Regions from separate parts of the Homo sapiens genome. Here regions 2, 3 and 4 are each linked to region 1. Evidence: fine-mapped expression QTL. A gene starts in region 1. Each other region holds a variant in brackets. All regions are shown on one strand. Distances are from middle to middle.

Region 1 (4,167 bases):
TGTAATAACAGACTTGAGTTGCAACAGCTGGGGTGTATGCAAGTTCAGGGGATGATTTTACATGTGCCATTTAATCCAGGTACACTAGACTAGTACCTTTCTCAAAACTCAGAAAATAAATTGCTGTGAAGTATAAAAGGATTCAACCCTGATTACAAATGGGATAACAGGTAATTTTTGCTTAAAAAGAGCCTCTAGGAAACAGGAGGTTTGATCAATTTGTTTCATGTACTTCTACTTCTTCCCTTTAGGGTGCCTCAGAATGACCTAGTTCTCCCTTCTCTGTGTTAACACATGACACATCTTTCTCTGACAGTCAAAATTCGCAGATTATCCAAGTTTTAGAAGCCAAATTATACTTGTCCCTTTGTTGCCTGCGGACCTGGGGCACTGCCTATGAGTGTTTCAAGCGACAACCCAGATGTTTTTAACCTTTAAAAAAAAATTTTTTTTAAATACAAGGTATTTCTCTGTTGCCCAGGCTAGAGTGCAGTGCCATGATTATAGCCCACTGCAGTCTCCAATGCCTGATCTCAGATGATCTTCCTGCCTTCATTCCAAGTAGCTGGCACTACAGGCACACGCCACCAAGCCCTGCCAATTTTTTGTATTTTCAGGAGAGACGGAGTCTCACTATATTTCCCAGCCTGGTCTCGAACTCCTGAACTCAAGCGATCCGCCTGCCTCAGCCTCCTAAAGTGCTGGGATTACAGGCGTGAGCCACTGCGCCCGGCCTAAGATGCATCTTAAGGGGCACTGTTCTATTTCTACCATCTCGAATAGTATTTGGCCAACTCTTTCCAGCTATGTCCTGAATTTAAAGTGGAAAAAGGAGAAGAAGAAAATTATAACAGGTCTCTATTTAAAACCTGACGATTTAATCCTTCGCTGAACTGGGTTACAGAATTTTTCGAAAGTCAAATGGAGCTTCGGGACGGGCCTGCCTATGACCTGCACCTTGGGCCACCTTCCCCAGGGGCACCTGCCAAGGTGCAGGTTAGGGCGACTCAGTCCTTTGTCCCCACTGCAAGGGTTGGGAAGAGAAACGGGGGAAGCCGAGGCCGAAGAGCCGGCCTAACTTCATTTCCACAAATGATTCCCGGTGACCTCAAGTTAGAGTATGAGCCACTGGAGTGCAGGGTACGGGAAAAAGGAGAATTTGGGGCAAGGGGCACTTCAATTTGCCGCCTAAATTCGCATGACCAGGCCTAAATTCGGATGCGTTGCCATTTCCCACAGGGAAAGGCTCCGTGCGGCTACCAGTTCACATTCCTCCAGCTGAGTGCAAGCGGCTCCGCTCTCCCTCGGCGTCCGCGGACACCCGGGCACTGCTCCCCGGAGCCACGCAGCAGCCGGGGCATGGCCGGGGCCAGGCCGAGGGAGCGCCGTGCTGCGCCCGGGAACCCGCCAGGGCCTCCCAGGCCGGGTCCCGCCTCTGCTGCCCCCTGCTGGCTGCCCGCGAGCCGGGGCGCCCCGAACTCTCAGCGCCTTGACCACCGCGGCTCGGGACCGGGGCGCGGTTACCTCTTGGGGACATCAAAGGCTCGGCAGGCGGCGGGGCGCGACGGCTCCCCACACTTGGTTTTCCCATAGCGGATCAGGTCCTGGAAGATCGCGCAGCCCGGGAGCAGGCCGGGCGGCAGGAGCTGCAGCAGTAGGGTCAGCAGGAAGGCGGCGGTCAGCGTGAGCCACACCGCGCGCAGCGGGTTCAGCGCCGAGTGCTCGGCCTCCGCCCAGGGAGCCATGGCCCGCGTGCCCGCCTTCCGCGCTGCTGGCGCCCCCACCGCCCGCTAGCCCGCGGAAGAGCGGCCACTAGCGCGCGGCGCACCGGTCTCAGCCTAGCGGGACGTCGGTGACGCGGCGCGGGGCGGGGACGCGCAGAGCCCCTCCCGGACTCGCCGCTCAGCCGCGGAGGTCCTTGGTCCTGGTCGCGCTGGCGCTGGGTGGTCGCTCGCAGTCCCTAATCTGGGCATGGGGATTCTTAGATGGAGCTCCAGAATATGATTCATCAGAAGCAAAGACGCAAAACAGACGAGACCACGTGTCTGCCACTCTTATCAACATTATCTCCAAAGCAAAAAATGGAAACCTTACATGTTGCATTTTAGTTTATTTAGCTAAATTATGATACACTGACATGTTAGAATATCATGCAGTCATTGAGAATTATTATGACGAGTGTAGAAACAGGGAAAGCTGTTTAGGAAACAATATGTGAAGTGAAAAACAAAACCAACCATAAAAATACATAGCTATGATTGCAAACAACTATATTAATATGAATGTGTGTATATATGGATAAAGAAGGCAGATCACACCCAAAAATGAATAATTATGTTAGGATGCTGGAAATGTGTTGGATATGTGTATAATGTAAACATGTAGACAAGTAATTGCACATAATAATAAAAATCATAGTGGTAAAAACTGTGTTTAAAAAACAGCAGTCGCTTACCAATAGGGTTCCAATCCTTAGAAGCAAAGTTTTTAAATTCCATCAGCTGTTTCCTGTAACATTTATCTCAGGTAGTGACAATGCTATTTATTGACTCACTGATTTTAAACAACACTGATTTTATTTACTATAAGTGAAAATCTAGCTCTTTTAAGTATTTAAAAGTCTTTAAAATGTTAATTCTGAAGTATTGTATGCCTACTGTATGACAGGCATCATTTTGGATACTGAGGACAGAGGGGTTTACAAGATAATTGTCACTGCTTATTTGGAGCTTACATTTTTGAGATTGGGTGGTGGGTGAGAAGTGGAAGAGGGGAGAGGTAGCCAACTCATCACCCTTACCCCAATGAGATACCCGATATGTGTGTTGAATAAACATCAGGGTGGGTAGGTTAGTGGGACTTTGGACTGTTAAATGAGCAAGCTTTTAAAGTTTTCTTCTTTGTGCAAAAGACACCTAAGGCTTTACCCGTCCTTTGACAGCCAGGTGATTAAGGATGGTTAAATTGGCATTCTAGCTAGGACAATGAGGCCTTATTGAGTGATCCTGGATCTCTTTTGCGGGAGTCACCCTTTCACTGTTTCTTTCTTTTCTTTTTTTTTTTTTTGAGATGGAGTCTCGCTTTGTCGCCCAGGCTGGAGTGCAGTGGCCTGATCTCTGCTCACTGCAAGCTCTGCCTCCCAGGTTCACACCATTCTCCTACCTCAGCCTCCCGAATAGCTGGGACTACAGGTGCCCCCCCAACCACGCCTGGCTTTTTTTTTTTTTTTTTTTTTGTATTTTTAGTGGAGATGGGGTTTCACTGTGTTAGCCAGGATGGTCTTGATCTCCTGACCTCGTGATCCATCTGCCTCGGCCTCCCAAAGTGCTGGGATTACAAGCATGAGCCAATGCTCCTGGCACCCCTTCACTGTTTCTTTATTTTTCTTAGGTTAACTCTCTGTAAATGCAGCTGGTCTGTCCATGATCTTTTTCTTTTCAGAGAAGCTACTTGTAAGTGCATTGCAGGGACTCAGTTTCCTGGGTAGGAGTTTCTCTTACAGTTGTCTGACCTGGGGCAAGATTGAAAACAAGATAAGTGTGTGTGTATGTGTGAGTGTGTGTGTAGTGGAAACAGGAAGGGTTGAGGAGGCTGGAGGGGAAAATCATCCCATATATTTTTTAGATTTTTTTTTTTGAGACCGAGTTTCACTCTTGTTGCCCGGGCTGGAGTGCAATGGCACGATCTTGGCTCACCGTGACCTCTGCCTCCTGGGTTCAAGCTATTCTGCCTCAGCCTCCCGAGTAGCTGGGATTACAGGCATGTGACACCACACCAGGCTAATTTTGTATTATTAGTAGAGACGGGGTTTCTCCATGTTGGTCAGGCTGGTCTCAAACTCCCGACCTCAGGTGATCCGCTTGCCTCGGCCTCCCAAAGTGCTGAGATTACAGGCGTGAGCCACCCTGCCTGGCTATTTTTTAGATTTTAATCAGCATGCACAGTTTATATTCAGAGAAGCCCCCTGTAGATGGCAGTGGCTGAACAGAAAGCCGTAAGTTAAACCCTCCTGGGAGTATTTGTAAATGTAAATCCTTACTGGAGTGAGTTAGTTCAAAAGTGGAATACCAGGCTAACATCTGTTAGAAAGATCATTGCTAATAAATATCAGTGAGCATTTTTGTCTTTCTTCATTTAATTAACTGCACTATATGTTCAACAAACTAC
Region 2 (4,167 bases), 110 kb before region 1:
TTGAAAGAAAGATAAATTCACTTTCAAGTATTTTGAATTTAAGTTACTAATGGGACAATCAAGTTCGAATGTCCTGAAAGCAAATGATAGGTAACTTTGTCTCACGTAAAATGCTAGAGTTGGAGAGAGAGATTTAGGATCAGAAGAACCTTTGTGAAAACCCCTAGTATGAAAATGGATTAGCAGAAGAGATAGGAATAGTCAGTAAGGTGGGAAGGTAAGTTTATGCTGTGGGAATGACAAAGGATGACTTTTAAGAAGTGGAAATGAAAAATCATTGAAGTTAACGATACAAATGTTAGTAATCTTGAGAAGAATAATTGCTGTAGAGGTGTAAGTCACAGTGTGTGAAGTTAAGGGAAATGAATATATGGAAGATGGAGCCCATAATGAAAAGGAAGGAGATCTATAATACCAAATAATTAGTGAAACTCCTTTATTTCAGATGGAAGACGTGAGCAAATTTAAAAGTAGATAGTAAGGACCCTTGGCCAGGTGCAGTGGCTCTCGCCTATAATCCCTCCACTTTGAGGCAGGAGGATTGCTTGAGCCTAGAAGCTTGCAACCAGCCTGGGCAACATAGTGAGACCCCATTTCTATAAAAAATTAAAAATTAGCCAGGCATGGTGGCTCACACCTGTAGTCTTGCGTACTTGGGAGGCTGAGGCAGGGGGCTCACTTGAGCCCAGGAGTTCAATGCCACAGTGAGCAGTGATCATGCCACTGCACTCCAGCCTGGGTGACAAATCAAGACCCTGTCTCAAAAAAAAGAAGAAAGTAAGGACCCAAAGGTGTAGATGCTAAAGGAATAAGGAACAGTGATGTGGCCCGGGTCCTAGAGAAAATAGGAAAGACTATAAATGGTAGAGATGGAAGGATTAGCTTTAGAATGTGAAGCAAAACTTTCCTTTGAAAGTGAGTAAAGAATGAAAAGGATGAGTAGCTAAAAATAGGGAAACATTAAGTTGTTTGCACCAGAAAATCTATTTTTTCTATTAAAGACAAAGTGAGATCCTCTCCTGAAGGTGCTCTACTTTTATGAACTAAATGTCATTGACGACTTCTGTTGGGGAAAATAATGGTTGTAAACTTACACAACTTTTATGATCTTACTTTATGTGGTATATCAATCATTGTTTTATATCAGAAATATGTGATTTTTAAAATCTCTTTTATTTCAGCAAAAAATCAGTTAGAATTCTGTTGTCACATGCTGCGAGGAACAATAGACCCAAAGGAGCCATCTACCTATGAATATGTAAAATTTATAGGAAATTTCAAATCTTTAAACAGTGGTGAGTTAAAATGCTTCTCTCACAATGTGTTTTAACTTGTTATTTTTCTGTGCTCTTAAAGACATAGATGTTTGAATATCAGTGACAATTAGGTTTTGCTGGCATAACTGATGATACATATTTCCCTATTGTTTTAGTATCCTCTTCAGCACACAATGGTTTTGAAGGAACTATACAACGCACACATAGGCCATCTTATGAAGATAGAGTTTGTTTTGTAGCTACTGTCAGGTTAGCTACACCTCAGTTCATCAAGGTATGTTTTTAATTTTATTTCCCAAAGGGGATTTCAGTTCATATGCTGAGAGCTGCCTGAAACTTCCTGCAGACATTGAGGTGGAATGGCTATGAGTCATTAAATATGCATGATAATATTTTTGAAACGATGAGTTATCAAGACACTCATTAAATTGTATAACTAATTTTTTAGTATATATCCTTTGCAGTTAACCAGTGATTATTATATATCAATATTGCCCTACTTTTGTGGAAGATTTTAGGATCCTTTTGTGTGTTGTTCATTATCTCTATTAAAAGGGAAAGTCCAAAAATCTAGGTTTTTGGAATCTTTATTTTTAGAAGGTAACTTTTAAATTTTTATTTGAAATGTACAAGTGGCTCTTTGCCACATATAACTTACCTTTTCAAATGTAAAATTAGGTATTTTATTTTTATTTCCTGGACCCAACAAACAGATGACAAGTAGGGAAGTGGGAAAGTGAAAGAGTTAACCACTAGAAACTGACTGGAAAGAGGCAGCCAGGCTAAGATTTAAAATTTCGGCGGGGCCAGGCGAGGTGACTCATGCCTGTAATCCCAGCACTTTGGGAGAGCAAGGCGAGAGGATTGCCTGAGCCCAGTAGTTTGAGACCAGCCTGGGCAACGTGACAAGACCCCATCTCTACAAAAAATACAAAAAATTAGCCAGGCATGGTGTTACACACCTGTGGTCTCAGTTACTCAGGAGGCTGAGGCAGGAGGATCATTTGAGCCCAGGAGGTCGAGGCTGCAGTGAACTGTGTTTGCATTTTATTTTGAGACAGAGTCTGACTCTGTCTCAAATAAATTTGGGGGGACATCATAGTATAGGACAAAGTACTGAATTAATAGAAGATCTTAAGCCAGTCTTGCTTGGTTTGTTTTGATCTTATGAAATAATAGTTGTTAACATTTGAGTGCTTACTACATGCTGTGTATTTTATATGCATTATCTCATTAATTCTTA[T/C]GACAACCCTATAAGTTAGATGCCATTACGATCCCTCATTTTACATTATAAGGAAACAGGCTTAGGGAAGTTAAGTGACTTGCCCAAAGTCTCAGCTATTAGTGATGAAACTGGGACTTGATTCTATTAATTAATAATTGTTTTTTTCTCAAAGCCCAAGCTCTCAACTATTACAGAGTGCTGCAGGTCATTCAGGGACACAGAGGCAGGATGGAATACATTGTTTAGTATGACTAGAGTCTAGGGTTAGTGTGTGGAGGGGGAAGAGATAGTGGGAGGTAAGGCTAGAAAAGTAATCAGAAACCAGAAATAAAATTTGTTTCTTTCTTGTTTATTTCTCCATGCTGAAGAGAGTTTAGCACAAGGAACCACTGAAGGTTTTTTAGCAGGGAAGTCATATAATATTTGAGTATTGGTAAGGTAATTGTGGCCCTAGAAGAGAAGATGAGTTGAAGGACAGGGAGACTGGTGAACACTGTAGCAAATCAGTGATGGCAGGGGTCTAAACCAATGCACTCAAGATGGATGAGATAGAATTGATTTTTAAAATACTTAGATGAAATGGAAAAGATTTAGTAATGGCCACTTAGATGATGAAAGGTAAAAATGAAAGAGTATGTTTTTTTAACTATCAGATTTCTAGACACTGGCCACTACACATGTATAGAATAATACGGAAAATTGTGTGATTGGGTGTGAGGAGTAAAGCAGTTAGTTTATTTTAGGACATATTGAATTTGAGATGTATGAGGACATTCAGATATTTGGAAATATGGAACTGTAATTCAGGAGAGAGGTCTGAATTTTGAATAAGCGTTTATAGGCATGTGTGAATGGAAAATGTGTAGAGTGAGAAGTACCCACCCAAAAGCTTGCATCTAAAGGTTATTTATTACCACATTCTTTAGTACTGGAAAATTAAAATATATTAACTTGTTTAGAAGGGCCTGCATTTTGGCTTATGCCTAGAATCCCAGCACTTTGGGAGGCTGTGGTGGGCAGGTTGCTTGAGCCCAGGAGTTGAAGACCAGCCTAGACAACATAGACCCCCCACCTCTACAAATAAAAATACAAAAATTAGCCGGGCGTGGTGGTGCATCCCTATAGTCCCAGCTACTTGGGAAGCTGAGGCAGGAGGATCGCTTGAGCCTAGGATGTTGAGGCTGCAGTGAACTGAGATCACACCACTGTACTTCAGGCTGAGTGACAGAGTGAGACCCTGTGTCAAACAAAGAAATAGGTAAATATATACATACATAGAAACAACTAACTTGTTTAGGAAAAGTTTATCTAGTAATGACTATTTATTTATGTATTTATTTAACCTCCACCTCCTGGGTTCAAGTGATCCTGCTGCCTCAGCCTGCCGAATAGCTGGGATTACAGGTGCCCGCCACCGTGCCCTGCTATTTTTTGTATTTTTAGTAGAAATCGGGTTTCACCATGTTGGCCAGGCTGGTCTCAAACTCCTGACCTAAGTGATTTGCCCACCTCAGCCTCCCAAAGTGCTGGGATTACAGGTGTGAGCCACTGCACCTGGCCATGACTTATTTTTATATGTAGCAATATTTAATATTCTTAAGGACACAAAGTATTTATAAATTTTAATTATTTATTTGTAGGAAATGTGCACTGTTGAAGAACCCA
Region 3 (4,167 bases), 190 kb before region 1:
ATTGATTTGTGACCTTTTTTCTTTTCTAATGTAAGCATGCTATAAACTTCCCTTTAATTGTTTATAATTTATTTATTTGTTTTTTGAGACAAGGTCTCACTACTGCTCAGGCAGTACAGTATCGTGATCATGGCCCATTGCAGCCTTGACCTCTCAGGCTCAAGTGATCCTCCCACCTCAGCCTCCTGAGTAGCTGGGACTGCAGGCATGTGCCACCATGCCTGGCTAATTTTTTATTTTTATTTTTATTTTTTTGAGACTGGGTCTCACTCCGTTGCCTAGGCTTTAGTGCAGTGGCCCAATCACGGGGTCACCACAGTGTCGACGTCTCAGGCTCAAGAGATCCTCGCACCAGAGTCTATTAAGTGCTGGGATTACAGGCGCGTGCCATCATGCCTGGCTAATTTTTGTATTTTTTGTAGAGATAGGGTTTCACTATGTTGCCCAGGCTGGTCGTCAACTCCTGAGCTCAGGCAATCCACTTGCCTCAGCCTCCCAAAGTGCTAGGATTACAGGTGTAAGCCACCACACCTGGCCAGAGTTTATTACAATTTTTTCTGAAGACAAGGATGTCACTGTGTTGCCCATGTTGGTCTTGAACTCAGTTCAAGCAATCCTCTTTCCTTGGCCTCCTGGAGTGCTGGGATACAGATGTGAGCCTCCACTCCTGGCCGTTTCCAGTTTTTGATATGTTTCCATTTTCATTCCATTCAGAGTACTTTATAATTTCTTTCCTGATGTCTTACTGGGTCTATAGTTTATTTATAAGTGTGTTATATAGTTTTCAAATATTTGAGGATTTTCCAGAGATCATTGTTATTTTTAATTTAATTCCATTGTAATGAGATAATTTTAAATTTATTCGGATTTATTTTATGGCCTAGAATATATTCTATCATTGTAAGTGTTCTTCATGTGCAGTTGAAAAGAATGTGTGTTTTGTTGTTAGGTGGAGTGTTTTACAAATGTCAGTTAGGTCAAGTCTGTTGATTGTTTTGTTTATGTCTCATAATTTTTTATTGAATGCCAGGCATTGTGTAGTAAAAAACTTAAGTAAGCATTACCAGGTAATGGTACATTTTGCCGGGTTGGGAGAGGGGTGGGGGAAGGGGAAGTTCATTTTCTATGCAGATAGGCTAGGGAGCTGTATTAGTCTGTTTGCATTACTATAAAAGAATACGTGAGACTGGGTAATTTATAAAGAAAAGAAGCTTAATTGGCTTACGGTTCTCCAAAGTGTATAGGAAGCATGGTGCCGGCATCTGCTTATAGTGAGGCTTAGTAAGTTTCTAGTCATGGCTGAAAGTGAAGGGAGAGCAGGTGCATGACAAGGCAAGAGTGGGAGCAAGAGAGCAAGGTGGGGCAGGTCCCAGACTTTTCAACAACCAGATCTTGTGTGAACTCACTTATTACCGAGGAGATGGTACTAAACCATTCATGAGGGATCTGCCCCCATGATCCAGTTGCCTCCTACTGGGCCCAACTTCCAACATTGGGAATTACATTTACATTTCATCATGAGATTTGGAGGGGACAAGCATCCAACCCATATCAGGAGCCCATCATCTTAAATTATGTGGAGGCTGGGTTGCTATTTTAATAGTTTGCTATCCTTATTTTTCCTTGTTTTTTCAGATGTTGTCTTCTAAGGCATTCATTTCAAAGCCTATTGGTCTTGTCCCTTTAGCAATGCCAAAGGTAGGAAATTTCACTTTGCTTTTCAAAGTTTTTTAGTTGACTTTGTAGCCTTTTACCCTGCACGGTTTTAAAATTCAGCAAGTATGCTGAGGGGAGATACCACCTTTAAGCTTGAGGTCCTTGCGTGAAACTTTTTAGGAGAATTAGTCTCCTAGTGTTGTTATTCCAGCCCTGTGTGAACACCAAAAGCTGTCCTGGCTTCTGTGTTCCTCAGCAACAATATTTTACACAGGTCAGGCCTCAATTTTCAGCCTCTAACCCAAGCAATAATTAGGAAATACTCCCAGGGAAAAGACAGATACTGGTCATCTAAATACCTTTAAAATATTCTCCCCATCTCTGAGGTGGAGGTTGCAGTGAGCCAAGATTGTGCCACTGCACTCCAGCCTGGGTGACAGAGCAACAAGACTCCATCTCAAAAAAAAAAAAAAAAAAAGATTCTCCCATCACTGGAATTTTAGACCTTCTTTCCCATGCTTCCACAGCTCCTCACTAACTTTAAAAATATGATTTTTATAATTTATTTAGCTTTTTAAGTTGTTCTTAGCAAGAATATTGGCCTGCTTCAAACTAGTTCATTTTACCTAAGTGCAGACAATTTCCTATTATTATTATTATTGTCATTTATTTTTGCAGAGATAGGATGTGACTTTGTTGCCCAGGCTTGTCTTGAACTCCTGGGCTCAAGTGATCCTCCTGCTTTGACCTTCCAAATTATTAGGATTACAGGCATGAGCCACTCTAGCTGGCGCCTGTCATTTTTTAAAGGTATGCAGAATACTCAATATTTATG[A/C]GCTGTTTTATGTAGTGTTCTTTAGGTATTTTGTTGTTGGGTTTCAGTTTTTGATGTATATTTTTTAAAATTGATTTTTATTGGGGTATAATGTATATATGTTAAAATCTGCCCAATTTAAGTATGCAGCTTGAGTTTTGACAAACCTAAACATTCTTGTAATCACCATAATCAAGAAGCAAAAAAATTTTTTTTTATACTGATAAAGAGGTCTTTCTGTATTGACCAGGTTGGAGTGTAGTGGCAATATAGCGAGGCCTTTGGCTCTCCAAAAAAATAGAAAAAAATTAGCCAGACATGGTGGCATGCACTTGTGATCCCACCTACTCAGGAGGCTGAGATGGGAGGATTGCTTGAGCCCAGGAGGTTGAGGTTGCAGTGAGCCATTGACTGTGCTGCTGGACTCAGCTTGGATGACAGAGCAAGACTGTCTCAAAAAAAAAAAAAAAAAAATTCTCACTTTATACAGAAAAGGCTGCTGAGATTTTGTTTAGGGTTGTATTTACTCTATAGATTAATTTAAAGAAAACTGATAGCAACATTGAGTCCTTTGATCCTTGAACACAGTATACCTCTCCATTCATTTAGGCCTTTCATTTTTCTCAGTAGTGCTTTGAAGTCTTTTAGTATACCTTTAATGGTGGTCTTCATCTTGTTCATTCAGCAAGTATTTATTGAGCATTCTGTTCTGTGCCAGCTACTATTCTGTCTGCTGGGGAACAAAGCCCTGCCTTCAGGGAGCTTATGTTCTAACTGAGGAAACCAGATGAGAAACTAGTGAGTTAAATATATGCTAGATGGATATTTGTATTGTAGAGAAAACCAAATCAAGGTGTAGGGGATTAGAGTCTATTAGCATGTGAGGATAGAATGGATATCTTAGTTTTGGCTGCTATAACAAAAATACCCAGGAGTATTAGATTCTGCAGTACAACAGCACATAGACTGTGTGCTGTTGAATTTGGTTTGCTAGTATTTTTTTAAGGGTAAAAAAATCAGTATTCATTAGGTTTATTGCTGTAGCTTTCTTTTTTTGTGGTATCTTTGTCTGATTTTGATATCAGGGTAATGCTGGCCTTTTAGAATGAGTTTGGAAATGTTCTCTCACATTTAGTTCTTTGGAAGAGTTTGAGGAGGATTGGCTTGGTGATAGTTGAGAGTAGAATAAGCACTCGTTTCAAGTTTGGTATTGTTGCACTGATGCTCCACTTGACTCGCTGCATATTACAACTGTAATTATTAATTACTTCAGTGCTGTTAATCATAGGGTAGTACAAGCTAGATTAAATGGCAAACAAATGTACAAAACATTTTATTACTATTGGGTTCTTTATACATTAATGTTTTAAGACACAGGCAAAAAGGAAAACATCGAGAGTTTACTGAAAAGCAAAAGTTTTGTAGTGTGTCTTGAATTTAGTAAACAAGTGTCCACTCTCCTGCATCTTAAACAAGCACTTTGTTTTTGTTTTATTTTTTTGAGATGGAGTCTCACTCTGTTGCCCAGGCTGGAGTGTAGTGGCATGATCTTGGATTACTGCAACCTCTGCCTCCCAGGTTCAAGCTGTTCTCCTGCCTCAGCCTCCCGAGTAGCTGGGATTACAGGCGTGTGCCACCATGCCTGGCTAATTTTTGTGCTATTAGTAGAGATGGGATTTCACCATGTTGGCCAAGCT
Region 4 (4,167 bases), 140 kb before region 1:
ATAGTAAAACAGCCTAATAAAGCATCAGCCTGCATCTTCTAAACTATATTGGATTCACCCTTCTAGTAGTCAGCAAGGCTTTTCCTGTAGTATAACCCTTAATTCTTGGCGTTGCCTAGTCCCCGCCACCACCCCCTGCCCTTTTTTTGGTAGTTTGTCTTATTTTCTACCTTTTGATAATTAAGCCATACTTACTGGGTGCCTTATAAGGCTCAGATCTGGCCTTTTGAACTTTTTACTCTTAACAATTCTTTTTGAATTCACTGAAATTTGCCCTATTACTTTTATACTGTTCTTCCTCTTCTAGTGATAGAATCAGCCTCACTTCTTACCATGAAGATAAATATGTCTGTTGGACCAGAGAAATGTACTTAGGTGGTCTTTAAATTCTCTTCTACCTCTAAAATTCTGTAGTTCTGTGTTCCATCTGCTGATACTACCTCAGACACTTAAAATCACAACTTTTCATCCTGGTGTTAGTCCTTTTTATTTTATTATTTCTATCTTTGACTCTGTCACTCATTTTCTTTTAAGAACTCTTAGCCCTGGGTATGGTAGCGAGCACCTGTAATCCCAGCTACTCAGGAGGCTGAAGTGGCAGGATTGCTTGAGGCCAGGATTTCAAGGCAGCAGTGAGCTATGATCATGCCACAGCACTCCACCCTGGGCAACAGAGTAAGACCCCATCTCAAAAACAAAAAGAAAAAAAAATATTCTGAGCCCCTCACAGTTCTACTTCTGCAGCCATAACCATACAGGCAATGCAGCAATGTTGCCAGGGTTATTCTCCTTTCCTTTCATGAAGGTGCATTTGAAAACAGTGACTGAATGTTTAGAATCTCACGTTCTTGTAATATCTTTAATCTTCTCTGGTTTAGAAATGCTCCGTTGAGCATTTCCTTTGAATGTTGAACATTATGTTGATGCTCAAAAGCTTTCAGATTTTGGAGTATTTTGGATTTCAGGTTTTCAGATTAGGGATACTCAACCTATAGAATATAGAGAGACAAATTTTAGGCTTGTGATCCAGCTTTAAAGCAGTAAGTTTTACTTCCTTCAATTTGGGTATGAGACTCTTTATAGTAAGACTCTCCTGTACTTGACTTGCCTTTGCCAGTTTACCACTTGTATTCTCAAACTTTATGGTCTAGTAATTATAACTTTAAATTGTAACATCCCAGGTTTTTCATAAGGAAAATGCTAAACCTCTTAGTTTCTCAAATACGATATTCTTTTGTCTCACTAAGGCCTGTGCCTTTACAAATTGCCATTCCTGTCGCTTAAAATTCTTTCACCTATTATCTGTTTCTGTCCTCCAGCCTGTTGCTTCTCAAACTTAAGTGGTCATACATTATCACGTGGAGCCCTTGTGAAAATGTAGATTCTGGTTCATTAAGATTTTGCCTTTGAAAACAAGCTCTCAGAGGATGGTGATGCTGCCCATCCCTGCACCATATTTGCATTAAAAAAGAATTTTGACTCCCTGACAGACTTACTGTCATCAAGAATATTTCCTCGTTTCCCCTCTCTAATTCCCACGGGTAGACATAATTGTTCCTTGCCCAGTGATAGCATTACACAGTATATACCTTCATTATACCTCTTATTATAATTATTTAGATATCTATCTTCCTGCTCAATTGCAAATTTTTCCTACAGGGACTGTGTCTTTCACTGTTATGTGCCCAAAGCCTGCTGTACTGTTTAGCAGAAAATAGGCTTTCAACAAATATTTATTGCTGAATAGATGGTGTTATTACAGACTATTTGTAGTTATATAGTCAAATATATACTGAATATTGAGAATGTCCATTTTATTTTGATTGATAGTAAAGAGAAAGTTAATATGAGCCTGAATTACTTTTTTTCTTGTAGGTGTTTTTTAGGAGGGGAAAAGAAGCCTCAAATGTACCTCAGCCATAGGTATTTGCTTGAAAATAATGTTCTGATCTTCAGTACAAACAAAACGTTTTGAAGTCTCTGTGATAACATATAGTATTTCTCAAGATAAGTTTGTGGAAGTAACATTTTTAGAAAACTAATGACCATTTATTTTTCTTTTCACCTAAGGAGAAGTACAAATGTCTACTACAAGACGAAAACGTAGTATGTTATGTTGTTTACCGTAAGCTGTAGTAAAATGAGCTCGATTGTTGACAGGTATGTTTTTGAAGACTTATTTTAAGTTATATATAATTATTTTAAAATGCACTATTAGAATAATGGTCTATATGAAATTGATAGAAGGAATTTTATGCCTAAACATAATTACTATTGCATTCAGTTTCTGTATTAAACAAATATAGTATAAAAAAATAAGTAAGGTATATCAGTATTTTCCAGAGGCAAAGTCAGCAGCATATGGCTTGTGTGTTTTAAATGAGTCCTGACTTGTAATTTTTAGTGATTTGGTCATAGCTGCTCTGAAGGAAATTCTGACAGTTGCAAATGTTTCCTTGGAACCTTCTGGAGTCCTTTTTCTTCTTATCTAACTTCATCCCTTCAAGCATCTTAGCATTTGTGACTGATAAGAAGTAA[C/G]TATAATTAGGATTTCATTAGTTAAAATTGTAATCTTTACATCATACTCTTGGGAAAAGGGTAAATCTCCATATTCCTTTGATTTTAATACTTGAAATTTTTGGAGGAGGGTGGAAGGGGGCAGTGAGGGTTAAAAAACTATTGGGTACTGTGCTCACTACTTGGGTGGTGAGATCATTGGTACACCAAACCTCAGCGACACGTAGTCTACCCGCATGAAAAACCTACACAGGTACCCCTGAACCTAAAGTAAAAGTAGAAAAGAAAAGACTTTAAGTTGTCTTTGTTTTTTACATTTTAGCATCTCTTATCATAATTTAATTGGTAGCACTCTTTTTTTCTTTCTTAAGGGCACATAAAATAGTGGTGATCTTAACAGTCAATAATATCTTAAATTTGATATAATCCAACAACATTTTTAAAGCATCTACTCTGACAGCAAATGTACAGAATACTTTTTTACATGTTATTTAACCTCAATAATTCTGCAAGATTTTACAAATGAGAAAACTGTAGGTCAGAGAGGTTAAATAACTTGTTTAAAGTCACATAGCTAGTAAGATATGATCTGGAATTTTTACTTGTGTTGGTTTGTCTGACATTAAAGTTGTTAATGCGTTTATTGCACTGTTCGGTGTGCTCCATCCATTGGGATTCTTTAAGAGTTTTGCAGCTAGACTTGTACACAGAAGTGACTTTTGACATCTGGGGACAGCTCTTCTCCCTTTTTATGAGCTAGATAGTAAAGATGTATACTCCACCAGAACTTAAGATGTGAGGAGCAAGAAACTTCCTTAAAGAAGCCTGCCTGCACCATGTCAATAGCTTTGAACTGTGCCATAGTTACAGGCGGAATTAATGATAGTCTTTTTCTTGGAAAAGATATTTCTTCACTGCCTTTGATGGATAAAATATGAATTTGGCATTATGCTTTTCCCATTCTAGATAGTATGACACCTAGGGATGACATTTGTATTTTCAGACATAAAGCAGTGATTATTAATATGGGTTCCTTATCTCTGAATGTCATGGAAGTTATGAACTCTGTTCTCGGAAAATTCATATACATATAACAATTTTTTATAAATTTCAGGGCCTACATGGAATCCCCAAGTTCATACATGCACCTCCACCATGATATGAGTGTTACAGGTGATCTCAATAGTGACTCCATTTTATAGCATATAGGCCTTTATAGGCCATAGAAAGGTGTGGCTAAAGGAGTGAATAGGGAATTTATGTAAAACTTCATAAATCAGCAGAAACTTTAATATTGCTCCTAGGGTTGAGTTAGCCACCAATGCTCTTGATTTTATTTTTTAGGAATGGTCTTTCCTTACATCTTCCCATAGCCAGCCCCTTCTTGTCACTTAGATCCTAGCTCACGTGTCCCCCACTAACCGCTCAGACTGCAGTTACTAAAACATCACCCCTTTAAAAAAAATTAAAACTCATCTCTTTTTTTTTTTTGAGACAGAGTCTCACTCTGTTGGCCAGGCTGGAGTGCAGTGGTACGATCTCGGCTCACTGCAAGCTCCACCTCCTGGGTTCACGCCATTCTCCTGCCTCAGCCTCCTGAGTAGCTGGGACTACAGTTGCCCATCACCACGCCCGGCTAAGTTTTTGTAT

The links. PIP is the estimated chance that this variant, and not a neighbour inherited with it, causes the effect. A credible set is the group of variants that fine-mapping cannot tell apart.
Region 2: its variant is the best candidate, but not a certain one, in a credible set for the expression of SRD5A3 in whole blood (INTERVAL, PIP 0.68).
Region 3: its variant is the best candidate, but not a certain one, in a credible set for the expression of SRD5A3 in whole blood (TOPMed, PIP 0.56).
Region 4: its variant is the best candidate, but not a certain one, in a credible set for the expression of SRD5A3 in whole blood (INTERVAL, PIP 0.60).

The regions. Positions count from the first base shown.
Region 1 is chr4:55,343,915-55,348,081 of GRCh38, reverse strand. SRD5A3 (steroid 5 alpha-reductase 3) reads right to left here and starts at 1,840. Exons shown (of 5, transcript NM_024592.5): 1 at 1,525-1,840. The coding sequence starts at 1,745. RefSeq lists silencers at 1,258-1,527, 1,738-1,907 and an enhancer at 1,359-2,119.
Region 2 is chr4:55,456,276-55,460,442 of GRCh38, reverse strand. It overlaps CLOCK (clock circadian regulator), which reads left to right. Exons shown (of 23, transcript NM_004898.4): 10 at 1,182-1,295; 11 at 1,433-1,551; 12 at 4,143-4,167. Among named protein-coding and RNA genes, the nearest start is that of TMEM165, 62 kb to the right of the region's middle. The variant T/C (reference allele first, on the strand shown) is at 2,521.
Region 3 is chr4:55,533,707-55,537,873 of GRCh38, reverse strand. The region is part of intron 1 of CLOCK (clock circadian regulator); the gene reads left to right. Among named protein-coding and RNA genes, the nearest start is that of CLOCK, 11 kb to the left of the region's middle. The variant A/C (reference allele first, on the strand shown) is at 2,492.
Region 4 is chr4:55,480,732-55,484,898 of GRCh38, reverse strand. It overlaps CLOCK (clock circadian regulator), which reads left to right. Exons shown (of 23, transcript NM_004898.4): 4 at 2,071-2,160. The coding sequence starts at 2,114. Among named protein-coding and RNA genes, the nearest start is that of CLOCK, 64 kb to the left of the region's middle. The variant C/G (reference allele first, on the strand shown) is at 2,539.